Regions from separate parts of the Homo sapiens genome. Here all the other regions are linked to region 1. Evidence: fine-mapped expression QTL. A gene starts in region 1. Each other region holds a variant in brackets. All regions are shown on one strand. Distances are from middle to middle.

Region 1 (4,246 bases):
GGATTAGGGCCGACCTTAATGGTCTCATTTTAACGAAATCACCTTTAAAGGTCCTATCTCCAAATATACTCACAGTCTAAGGTACTGGGTGTTACGGATTTAACACACGAATTTGAGGGGACACAATTCAGCCTGTAAGAGCCAGTAACTTCGGCCCACTACCACATGGGCCTCTTGGTACTCACAACCTGGCAGCTTGCTTCCCCCAGAGTGAATGATCTAGGAAGGAGACCAAAAAAGCAAGAGCCTAAGGCAGAAACCACAGCCTTTCTCCAAACCTAATCTTAGAGGTAACGTATTACTTCTGCTGTATGCTATCAGTGACACAGACCAATCCTGGGATGATGCAGGAGCAGTCTACACATTGGTCTGAACACTGTGGGGGTGGAGAATCACTGGGGAACATACTGGTGCTTGTCTACCACAAACCTATATCCATAATATATGAAGAACTACTACAATTTGATAATAAAAGACGTCAATTAAAAATGGGCAAAAGATCTGAATAAACATTTCATTAAAGAAAATATCCAAATGGCCAGTTGGCAGATGAAAAGATGTTCAACATCATTAGTCATTAAAGAAATGTAAATTCTCAATGACGTACCCCTACACATCTATAATCAAATAACTGATAATACTAAGAATTGGCCGGGATGTAGAGAAATAGGAACCCTCAGCCAGTAGGAATGTAAAATGGTATAGCTACTTTGGAAAACAGTTTGGGCATTTCTTTAAAAATTAACATAAATTTATATGGCCCAGCAATTCCACTCCTAGTTATTTACTTAACGGGAAATGTAAACATGTCCACACAAAGACTTGCATATGAATGTGGAAGCAGAATTATTCGTAATAGCCCAAACTGGAAACAAGCCAAATGCCCACCAACTGGTACATGCATGAAAAAACGTGCCACATTCATACAATGCAATGTTATTCAGCAATACCGGGCATTAGGCACTTTCGCCTAATATATTTATGATGTTCTCTGAGAGAATCCTGCAGAATGCTGGGAATGGGGAATAGCCTGACGCAGGCTGTTACTTAGAAAGAATGGAAAGAAAAATTAATGCCCTCTTTCCTACTTGAAACCCATCATGATTCCCAGTTATACACTGAGTTTGTGTCTGTCACTGACAGTTGATTCCTATGCATGATCTCATATTATCTTCGCAATGACACTGGGAGATTTATATTAATAATACCATGCTCCCTAGTTTATAGCTTCAAGAAACTAAAGCTTGCAAAGGTGTAACATCAGGTGTGTCCTTTTTCATACAAGATTGGATTTAATGGTTAACACAGATAAGGGTGGGTTTTCCCATTTCCAGAGTGTAAGGGTTTCGCTTCTCTCCCTCTGCCGGTCTCCTCCACTGTTTACACCCAGTAGGGCGTGGAGGGTGGCCTAGGGTGTGGCCCAGGAGGCTTCCCTAAGGGAAGGGGGTGGTGGAAACCAGGCGGTTTGAAGCCCATCAGGATTCCCAGTTATATATCGAGTTTGTGTCCGTCACTGCTAGTTGATTTCCATGCATGATCTCATATAATCTTTGCAATGACACTGGGAGATTTATATTAATAATACCATGGTCCCTAGTTTATAGCTTTAAGAAACTAAAGCTTGGAAAGGCCTAATAACATCAGGTGTGTCCTCCATTTTCATGCAAGATTGGATTTAATGGTTAACACAGATTAGGGTGGGTTTTCCCACTTCCAGAGTGTAAGGGTTTCGCTTCTCTCCCTCTGCCGGTCTCCTACACTCTTTACACCCAGCAGGGCGTGGAGGGTGGCCCAGGGAGTGGCCCAGGAGGCTTCTCTAAGGGAAGAGGGTGGTGGAAACCAGGAAGGAGACGAGAACCCCAGCGGGCAAGTCACGCAGTTACGCTTGTTCGCCCAGAGAATCCGGCAGGGCCTCCGCAGAGCCGTAAAGAGCTCTACAAGTCGTGAAGGGGCGAGGCGCAAAAGCGTAGCTTTACGGCGATTCGAGCAGTCGCGTCAAGCAGGCTATTCCGGGTTTGTGGCTGCTTGGCTCCACACGTGGGCCGCCGTAGGTATTCCGACCGGTAATTCCTCCTATTGGTGTGCAGCAGCCACATTGAAGGATAGAGTGGCAGCAGAGGCCAAGGATCGTGAGTTGATGGAGTTTGCTGCTGAAAATGAAGGGAAGTCTGGGGGAGGTCTCCACAGCGTAGCTGAGGGGGTGCGGCTAAGTCCAGAGCCTGGCAGGGAGGGAGTAAGGGACTTAGCAGGGGCGGAGGAGTTCGGCGGCGGAGAGGAGGGGACAGGGCTGACAGGGATAAAGGAGATAGGGGATGGAGAGGAAGGAAGTGGACAAAGGCCAGAGGAAATACCGATGGACCTAACGGTAGTGAAGCAGGAAATTATAGACTGGCCAGGTACAGAAGGCAGGTTGGCTGGCCAGTGGGTAGAACAGGAGGTGGAGGATAGGCCTGAGGTGAAGGATGAGAACGCAGGCGTATTGGAGGTGAAGCAGGAGACGGATAGTAGTTTAGTGGTAAAAGAAGCGAAGGTGGGTGAACCAGAGGTAAAGGAAGAGAAGGTAAAGGAAGAGGTAATGGACTGGTCAGAAGTGAAGGAAGAGAAGGATAACTTGGAGATAAAACAGGAGGAGAAGTTTGTTGGTCAATGCATAAAAGAGGAATTGATGCATGGAGAGTGTGTAAAAGAAGAGAAGGATTTCCTGAAGAAAGAAATCGTGGATGATACAAAGGTGAAAGAAGAGCCTCCGATAAATCACCCGGTGGGCTGCAAGCGGAAACTGGCCATGTCAAGGTAGGGCATGGGGGATTCCATTTAGGGGAATAAAGCTGTGGAGTCCTCATGTCTAGAGTGAAGGAAACCACACTATCAGGAGAAGGTGGAATAATGAAAAATGAGCACAAGTTTGGGTTTCTGGAGTCAGACGGCGTTCGCGGGGGTGGGTTGGGAAGTGGAGGGTGTTGTACATGACAACACAACAAATTCAGTGAAAATACATGAAATTAGTAGTGTCCAATGGGTAATGGTCAAGTTAGGAAAGTGGAAATTCTGGGGACCAAAAGATCAGTTGGAACTGGATCTGGCTTGACTTAATATGCTCTTTACTCGGTATTCCTTTGAGAGAGAATAGAGATGAGAAAGTCTAATAAAACTAACAATGACAAAGTAGATTAAGTTAAAACTAGGCAAAAATACACTTGACCTCAATTATCAAGCTTCTTCATGGGTGCTGTGAATATTTATTGCTTTTGATTGAATTTCCTTAGTGTGTGGATCATGTGACAAAGGAAATAAGAGTAGTCAGATTCTTGAGAATATTCCCGTCTAGAACACAGTGGGCTAAATAGAAGTAACTGTAGTTTGGTTGTCAGTATCCCAGGAGCATAGAAGAGCAGTTGAGGACAGATGATGGGTTACATGGCATTTCTAGATTATTTCGATGCTCATTCTAGATTAGGCGTGGAGTTCAGGAAAAAGGGTGCTACTACTACTCTCTAAATTTCACTTGGCCTTATATTCTTTGTCTGGTGTGTGCTTTAAAAATATCTAAACATAGCTCATGAATTGGACTTCTGGATACACACACATACAATCATTACCACATTTCCAGGAATCACAAGTTAAAATATCAGTGAATAATCTCATTCCCTGATTATAGTAGAAAAAGAAGTCAAAAGCGAGATGGGTTTTAAAAATTTTAATACATTTTCCTGAGTTACATATCACTAACAACATTGGAAATGTAGTTGTTTTGGGAAGGTTTCATAGAGAAGAATTTTCAAATGATGTTCAACAGCTATCAAATATTTTATCAGTTACTTGTCACTGAGTTTATAAATTGATTGGGAATTCTAAGTTTATAAATAAATACAATTAATATTTGATAATTTAATGTTACATGTGGGCTTTTGTAGGTGTGAGACTTGTGGTACAGAAGAAGCAAAGTACAGATGTCCACGTTGTATGCGATATTCCTGCAGGTATACATGTAACTTCCTACCTTTTAACCTGTATCTGTACCTTTCTTACCCTAAAATATAAAAGTACTTCCCCTTTGTCTTTTCAGTTTGCCCTGTGTAAAGAAACACAAAGCAGAACTGACATGTAATGGAGTTCGAGATAAAACTGCATACATTTCAATACAACAGTTTACTGAAATGAATCTCCTAAGTGGTAAGCCACTTTATGCATAGCAAATTGAGGCTTCCTGGCCATTGGTATATGTCACTTGTTTATTCTTCTGTTT
Region 2 (4,246 bases), 34 kb after region 1:
CCTCCCAGGTTCAAGCGATTCTTCTGCCTCAGTCTCTTGAGTAGCTGGGATTACAGGCATGTGCCACCACGCCCGGCTAATTTTGTATTTTTAGTAGAGACGGGGTTTCTCCATGTTGGTCAGGCTGGTCTCAAACTCCCGACCTCAGGTGATCTGCCTGCCTCAGCCTCCCAAAGTGCTGGGATTACAGGCGTGAGCCACCGCGCCCGGCCAGTAAAACAGTCTTATTGCTGATAGGGAGAAAGTTTTAGTGGTCTGGATAGAAGATCAAACCAGCCCGAACATTCCCTTAAGCCAAAGCCTAATCCAGAGCTAGGCCCTAACTCTCAACTCTATGAAGGCTGAGAGAGGTGAGGGAGCTGCAGAAGAAAAGTTTGAAGCTAGCAGAGGTTGGTTCATGGGGTTTAAGGAAAGAAGCCATCTCTATAACCTGTGGGTTATGTGTGGGGTGAAGCAGCAAATGGTGATGTAGAAGCCACAGCAGGTTATCCAGAAGATCTAGCTAAGATAACTGATGAAGGTGGCTACACTAAACAGATTTTTCAATGTAGACAAAATAGCCTTGTATTGAAAGAAGATGGCATGTAGGACTTAGCTAGAGAGGGGAAGTAAATGCCTGCCATAAAAGCTTCAAGGGATGGACTGACCCTCTTGTTAGGGGCTAATGCAGCTGGGGACTTAAAGTTGAAGCCAGTGATCATTTACCATTCCAGAGATCCTAGGGCCCTTAAGAATTATGCTAAATCTATTCTGCCTGTGCTCTGTAAATGGAACAACAAAGCCTGGATGACAGCACATCTGTTTATGGCATGGTTTACTGAATATTTTAAGTCTACTGCTCAGAAAAAAAAGTTTGTTTTCAAAACATTGCTGCTTATTGACAACTTCGATCCTCTTTGGGACTCTAAAGAAGGAAAGTTATAACATTAGAGTGAGGACCTTAAAGGAAAATGAAGCACAGGGGAGTTGAATGCCTAGAGCTAGGTCATGTGAGTTTCATTTAAGCATACTTCTTTGACGTATTTTTTGTTTAGATTTATCCCATTTGGCTCTTTGTTAAAATAAGTCTTAATGTTTTGACTTGTAGCTTTCTGAGTTGTGGTCTCTGGGTATCCTGATTCCTTTCTATGCAATGGCATGAGAGCAGTTTCCTTAACTGCTCCCTTTGGGGACATAACATCTTACGGGCATTACTGCAGCTCTTCTCAAAAACCCTGGTATGCTAGGACAAAGAGATTTCCATCCACTTCGGCTCTTCATGGACTTACAGTACACATTTCCAACTTAAAAAATAACTGTTCTCTGGGCCCAAGCAGTGTGTCCTATACTATAAATTTTAAAATACTCAGTATCCCCTGTTTATCTTTTATTACCAAGAATTCTGATTTCCTTGAATTTTGGAAGAAGAGGCTATTTTGTCAGAGTCAAGTTTGACTGGCTTAGGTGAGTGGACACATTAGCCCTCAGAGATATTCTCTTAGTAGGCTTGTGAGACTAAAGCCATGGTCTCATGGCTTAAAACATGAGTAACATTTAAATGAACTAATTAGATAAAATATGGCACATGGCAAGAAAGGAACTGAATTTAGAAGATGAAACAGATAATAAAAGAATTATGTAATGATTGACTAGAGGTAAATTCCAAGGAAACAATGTAAATTATTTTGTTTAAACATGAATTACGTGGAATTGATTTTAGGATTTTACTAAACAAAACTGACCTTTTTAATCGCCAAAGTGAAGGGAATAGTAGATTAATAAAGTAAAAAGTAAGTGGTGTTGACTATAAGGAATACCTAGAATAGACTGATTTGATACTAAACCTGAGCCTAGCTGGGTGCCTGTGGCTCATGCCTGTAATCCCAGCACTTTGGGAGGATGAGGCAGGCAGATTGCTTGAGCTCAGGAGTTTGAGACAAGCCTGAGAAACATAGCAGGACCTCGTCTCCGAAAAAAAAAAGAAAAAGATAAACCTGAGCCAGTCTGAGGAACATGAAAGTACTTTCACTCTACCTTATCTGTGGAGAAAGCT[T/C]ATCTTCCAAATTCCCCCATTTTTGCTATTGACTCGAACTAAGTAATATATGAAAATACTATCAAAGCAAAGGAAGGGGGAAAAGGTTATGTCCCAGGTCCAATTTAAAAATTGCCATTCTGTTTAGCCTTGAGTAGTGATGGCATCATTTGACAGCAATAATAATGTCAGAAATTCCTGTTGAGGTAGCTTTCTTCTTGAAGTTGGACCTAAATTGGCATAGGGCATCTTTATATTTCTGATTATTAGGTCAGCCACAAAGCATAGTTATGCTAATTTCTAAAGAACCTCAATTTTATAAGTATTTTGTAGTCATAAGTAATGAAGTTAGATAGTATAGAGATATATTTAGGCGTAGATTTTTATTTTTTATCAGATTTTTAAAACATAATGTTCTCTGTAACATACTCATGAATGGACTAAGATGAGCATTTACATTTGATTGGTACATCCTTAAAGGAAAGTACATTACAGTTACATCCTTAAAGGAAAGTACATTCAGAGAACATCTAAGGAAAATTATTATAGGTTATAAATGTTAAGCTCTAATTTAAGATAAGCATTCTAAATAGAACCATTTTATTAATTTCCTGAAAAGTGCTTAGAAATCAGAAACATGTAGTTTCTTTGTGGCTGTTTAATTCTACATTTACAGCATTACAGTAACTTCAGAGTAAAGTCTTTTTACCAAATACTTGATGTTGCCAGTTTCCATTGGTTTTACTTTCCATTCTTGGAAGGTATATAGCAATTGTCTCATGATATAGATATACCTGGTCAGCTAGAGCATGCTTAAGTTTTTTCCAGGTTTTAGCTTTGCCATACATGACTTATTTTTTAAATTGCGATCCTAGAATGTATGTCTAATCTAAGGAATTCGCTACTGATCTGTTTGGGAGTTTTCTTTCCAGAATACATAGGGTCTGAATTTATCTCTTAGAAAAGCTATTATAGCTTTTTAAATAAATTCACTTATTCATTCAGCAAACAGTGAGTATGCCAAAGTCTAGATGCTGTTCTAGACATTGAGGCTATGGCAGTAAAGAAGAGTGTTCCTGCCCCTGTGGAGAAGATCATTCATGTAAGATGCTTGTGTTAGTAAAGCCATTCTTGCCCTTTGCCGCCTTATTTCTTACCAACTTTCTATTCTCAGAAAGTAAATGAGTGGTTTTGGACTAGAAAAGCCTATGTTGCTAAATGTCAGGCACTATCAGAGGGCAGCTGTTGTATTACTGCCCACTTAAGTTACTACTGACTGAAGAATTTATAAAACAACCAACTTTGTCTATTCAAGTACAGTTTTCCAAATCTATTAAATTTTAAGCCTGGATTTTACTTTTATGGAATTATTTACCAGAAAGAAATTTAGATACATTTTGTTTTTTATGTTTACTTTGCTGCTTTGATACTTGTAAATCTTCGTGGTTTTTTTTTTTTTTGTGATTTAAGCAGTTATAGGATGATCCTTTCCAAATTTATTCAAAAAAAACCATTAAGTACATTTAATCTTCTAGGCATATAAATAAAAATTGGAGTTTATACAAGAATGAATAAAATACAGTTCTGTTGTAGTAAGGAAAACAGACACACTGTATATATCATAAGAAACCTATGTCTAAGTCTTAAAAGTGATGTGGAAGGTAGCAGGTATCCTCATGTCATCAGAAGGCTTTGTTGTGGAAGTGATGTTTGATTTTTATTAAAGGTGAATGGCCTATGACTAGGAGAGGGTACAGAGGGCCTTAAGAAGTGCAAGGGCATGGTATGTCATAAACAAGGCAAGTAAGTGATTTGAGGAGGTTGGAGTGTATAGATGTATGCAGAGCAGTATTTTTTAAACTTTTTTTTAAAAGTTAAGGTTGAAGAGTTAGTTCAAGACCCAATACTAACGCTGTCTGGATCTGGTCTCCTTGGCAGTAGAAAACTGTAAAAATCTAGCAAAAAAAAAGCAGTAAGACTTGGTGATCAAGTTGGCTATAGGGAGCAATAAATAGGAATCAAAGGTGACTACAGTTTCTGGCATGATTGCTGTTTACAGAGAGATAAAAGTAAGGTCTGGAGAGGCTAAGAGCATGTTGAGTTTCATGTAGGGGTGGCATCATTTTCAGGAACACTACTTTTGAAAAGAATGACCTTACTCTACTAATTATTAGGATATCTTCAGAGTGAAACTGTATACTAGTAAAAAATAGTAATATTATCCTTCCAGAATAC
Region 3 (4,246 bases), 110 kb before region 1:
TCAAGCAAACTAAAAATCTGTTGGTTTACTGAATTTAGTCTTCTCTTTCCATGTGGCCAGATAGACATTGCCTCAACTTTAAATAGCAAGCAACTTTGTCATTTGCACCTTCAATTCATTGCTGCCCTGTTTTTCAGGCATTCTGACTTCACATGCTATTGATTTCAAATTAAATTCTTAAGAAAATGCACTACACTGTTAATAATAAATTAGATGAGAATGAATAAAAAGTAATGATTTGAGATTGTGTTTCTCCTGATTTGTTAAGCAGCCTTCACCCATATTTGTGTTTTCCACTTATGGGAGTAAGTAATAAAATGGGGTTGAATCAGATATGTTAAATAGGCATTCACTTACCTAGAACCCATTTTGTATAGTCTTGGCATCTATTCAGTAACTTTCTGTTAGGTTCCCCAATAAATAATATTAATAAATAAAAATATCATATCGAAGATAAGCCTAAACAAGCAGAGAAAGAAGATAGTTAAGTCATTCACTTAGAATTTTTAATACTCAAATTGGAAAAAGTCATAGAAAACATTGGGAACCTAGAATACTGCTACTGCTGTCATGCTACTTCCTTATATTTGCAGTAAGTGCCTAAGAATGCAAGTTCTGTCCAACATTTGATCCGAAAGTATCTACTTTTTTACAATTAATACTTTCATATTTGCAGGCTTTCTTTTTCCATCTTGAGAGGTCTCAGGAGTAAGACATTTTCTGATGCTTATTAGTATATGTTAAAATTAGGCTAATGAATATCAAATACTTTTACTAGTCAACTGCCTCTCTAGCCTACATGGTCAACAATCCCTGCGTGTTGGAGCTAAAAGGTGCTAAGAAGCCATAGTTTAAATTCTGTATAATCCAGGCAAGCTAGTTCTTCCCTGCTTTGGGTAATGCTGGCATACAACCCAAGGGCACATTAAAAAGCCTCTTAGAATTTAAAATAGTATTAATTGCTACAAGAATAATGACTGACTGTGTATTATTCACTAGGGACACCTTCAGTGGCCAGATGGGTCCTGTCCAATTGCTGTCATCTTGTTTTTGCAAAGCTTTAAATTTATTTTTTAGATTTGGAAATGACCCTTTAAAATTATCTGGATAACCCTCTTAATTTTCAAATGAAGAAATTAAAATCCCAGAGAGATTATGAGTTACCTAAAATCACAGAACTAATTAGCAACAGAAACAACACTAGAAACTTTATTTCCTAGCTCCTGTTATTATGAAGAAGCCTATTACTTGTAATCTTTTAAAAATTAAGTAAAATATGATTAATTTAACCTAACCAACCAATTCATTCATTGGGCATAAGACTGTGGGCAGCTATAAAGAAAAATTTAGAGCAAGTCAAAACCAATTGCAGAACCAACATTTTTTAAAAGACTTTTGTAATGCAAATGTGAGTGAACTGTCCTATAATGACTCTCAAAGACCAAGACTCAAGCCAAAATATTTGTTCTCCCAAAACAAAATTCCAGATTTCAATGAATTGAAATTTCTTGGTGAAAAAAGAAAGAATAATTTTTGCTTAACTCTCTAAATCTATTTTTGCTTTATAAAGCTGCCTTCTTAAAGAGTGTTAGAACTAGTGAAGTATCTAGATAACTGTCCTTCAGCCTCATTTAAACAAACAAAAAACAAGCGTTTGTATTAACGTTGCATATTAAAAAATATTTCCCTTATCAAAAGAATCAGACTGCTTTCTCTAGTAGTCTGTGAACCAGCACAGTCCCAATGAACAGAAGCCTTTCAAAATGGATCTGATTTCAAATGGGCCACTCTACCTATTTTTCAGTGCTGGCCAGGCAAAAAGAAAGCACAATTTTATATGTACTGTAAATCTAATCCATTGACTGCCTTTAACCCCATTCACTCAAATATCCTACATTTGATTTAGAGTTTTCCCCACTCACTCTTTTCAAATTTGGAGTTACAGATGGTAGGGAAGGCAGGTGGAAAATAAGTTTAGTCTTCAGTCATCATCTGTTCACACTAGTGTCCCCTGAAATGCACATCATCACTTTTGGCCCACAGTTGCTATTGTCTCACCGTATTGGCATCTACCTTGGCCCTCCTGCCAGAAGTATTTTGACCTATGCTGGC[A/T]TGTGCAGCTATTTGCTCATCTCAGGTACAAGACCTCCTCAGGCCTCTCAGGGCCATCTTCTTCTGTTCTTGGCCACATATAAATAACATTCTCTGCTCCCCACACCATACAGGGTACTTGGAGGACTCAGAAAGACATTCTTAATCCCACTGTCCTAGACATGTCATGCAGAGATTTTTACTCTATGTACTTTATGTGGACTTCTCAATGAGGACTTTAGTCTCCCTAGGCATCATCTTTGTGCCCAGATCCCCAAACTTATCTGGGAGCATTAGTGTTTCTATCCACCCTAAGAAAGACTCAAGGGCAGGCCAGGCATGGTGGCTCATGCCTGTAATTCCAGCACTTTGGGAGGCCGAGGAGGGCAGATCACCTGAGGTCAGGAGTTCAAGACCAGCCTGGCCAACATGGTGAAACTCCGTCTCTACTAAAAATACAAAGATTAGCTGGGTGTGGTGGTGCATGCCTGTGATCCCAGCTACTTGGGAGGCTGAGGCAGGAGAATCACTTCAACCTGGCAGGTGGAGGTTGCCATGAGCCGAGATCATGACACTGTACTCCAACCTGGGTGACAGAGTGAGACTCTGTCTCAAAAAAAAAAAAAAAAAGGAAAAGAGAAAGACTCAAGGGTAGGATGAGGGGCAAGGGGCTCTTTTCAGAGATTGCCGTCAGTGTCTAACAGTCCCGCTTCTCTTTTTCTTCTTCTTTTCCCTTTCCCCAGCTTGAGGATCTTTATCCCCTTTCATGGGAAAAACTCTTTGTTACATTATTATTATTATTTTAAATCTGTTCTTTATAGCATAAATTTTATGACTTGAGTCCTTTATAACAAACCTTGGTTTTTAACTCAAAGATAGACTTTTAATATTTAAGAGTCAGGCTTTTGTGTTTAAAAAACATGATTTTGAAACTGAAAACATATTTTTTTCAAACTGTTACCCCCACCATGAGTTTCATTGGACTATTTTAAAATTCAAAAGCCAAGGAAAAGTCTATTTTGAAAAATCAAAAGTATAGAACAGATATATCTCGTTGCATAAAAAGAAATACTGTAAAGGAAAAAACACACTGATTAACATAATTGCATATTATGATTCATATGCTATTTAATAAGTATTTCAAGATGACTGAAATCACAACTTTTTTCCACTATTTAAAATAGTCTTTGTTTATTTTGCTTTTTTATTGTGTTAGGAAAAACATATTTTACTTATAGGGATCATATGCTCTAGAAATGTGTATACTTTAATTAAACCCAGGTCACTAACTATCCCATTTTCTGGTTTCCTCATCTTTAGAAACATTTTGCATTAGTGACTTCTAAGACAAGTACAATAGTTTTCAAAGTTGGAAGTACAACCCATGATCCTTATATCTCCCCATTGTCAAATCCTGCAAAAGTTGGATTTTTATCTCTTAGAGAAGATGCTCTTTTTCTCTGTGACAACATATACTATTTCTTCATAAAATGTTTAAGCTGGTTGTCAAAAAAGTAACATCTTTTGAAGTTGTTTCTTTGTTGTTATTATTAAACTGAATCTTTAGCACAATTTGTCTTCAAAATTGAATGATTTAACATCCCATTTTAGTGGGATTATCCTGTTTGTGAGAACTTCTGATGATTTCTGAGAAATGTGTCTGGTAATGACAACATGATTCCTTTTCTTATTTGTGAACCAAGTCACCTTTTCCACATTTTCTTCTTTAAATACTTTTAGAATGTCATCAGAACAATGGCATGATTTGCAAGAGCAAAGTTCCTAACTATCCTGGCAGACCCATTACTGCTGAATCAATTATGATTTAAAACATCTCACACATGGAAAAACAAACAGTTCCGTGGGAAATAAATATCTTTTCCTTGAATCACAAGTATGCTCTTCTCTATTCTTCCAGAAAAGCACATTTTAGGCTATCAGTTCATGTTCTTCTTACCACACTGTAAGTGCCTTGTAAGGAGGAACTTTGCCTTTGCCTTCCAAGCGCATGACAGAGTCCCTGATACATGATACTCAATAAATGTTTACTGAATTAAGTAAATATGTAGCATTTTCAAAAGGAGATCAAGGCCCTTCCTGAAAGTAGGGACATTTATTAAATAATCTATTCAGGTCCCTTTTAGAAGTACAGTTT

What was found. PIP is the estimated chance that this variant, and not a neighbour inherited with it, causes the effect.
Region 2: its variant is the best candidate, but not a certain one, in a credible set for the expression of ZNHIT6 in stomach (GTEx, PIP 0.51).
Region 3: its variant is the best candidate, but not a certain one, in a credible set for the expression of ZNHIT6 in nasal epithelium (TOPMed, PIP 0.58).

What each region holds. Positions count from the first base shown.
Region 1 is chr1:85,706,176-85,710,421 of GRCh38, reverse strand. It overlaps ZNHIT6 (zinc finger HIT-type containing 6), which reads left to right and starts at 1,989. Exons shown (of 10, transcript NM_017953.4): 1 at 1,989-2,793; 2 at 3,915-3,980; 3 at 4,067-4,173. The coding sequence starts at 2,138. RefSeq lists enhancers at 1,066-1,898, 1,837-2,196, 1,899-2,732.
Region 2 is chr1:85,672,021-85,676,266 of GRCh38, reverse strand. All of the region lies in intron 8 of ZNHIT6 (zinc finger HIT-type containing 6), which reads left to right. Among named protein-coding and RNA genes, the nearest start is that of ZNHIT6, 34 kb to the left of the region's middle. The variant T/C (reference allele first, on the strand shown) is at 2,033.
Region 3 is chr1:85,818,324-85,822,569 of GRCh38, reverse strand. The region is part of intron 45 of COL24A1 (collagen type XXIV alpha 1 chain); the gene reads left to right. Among named protein-coding and RNA genes, the nearest start is that of ZNHIT6, 110 kb to the right of the region's middle. The variant A/T (reference allele first, on the strand shown) is at 2,113.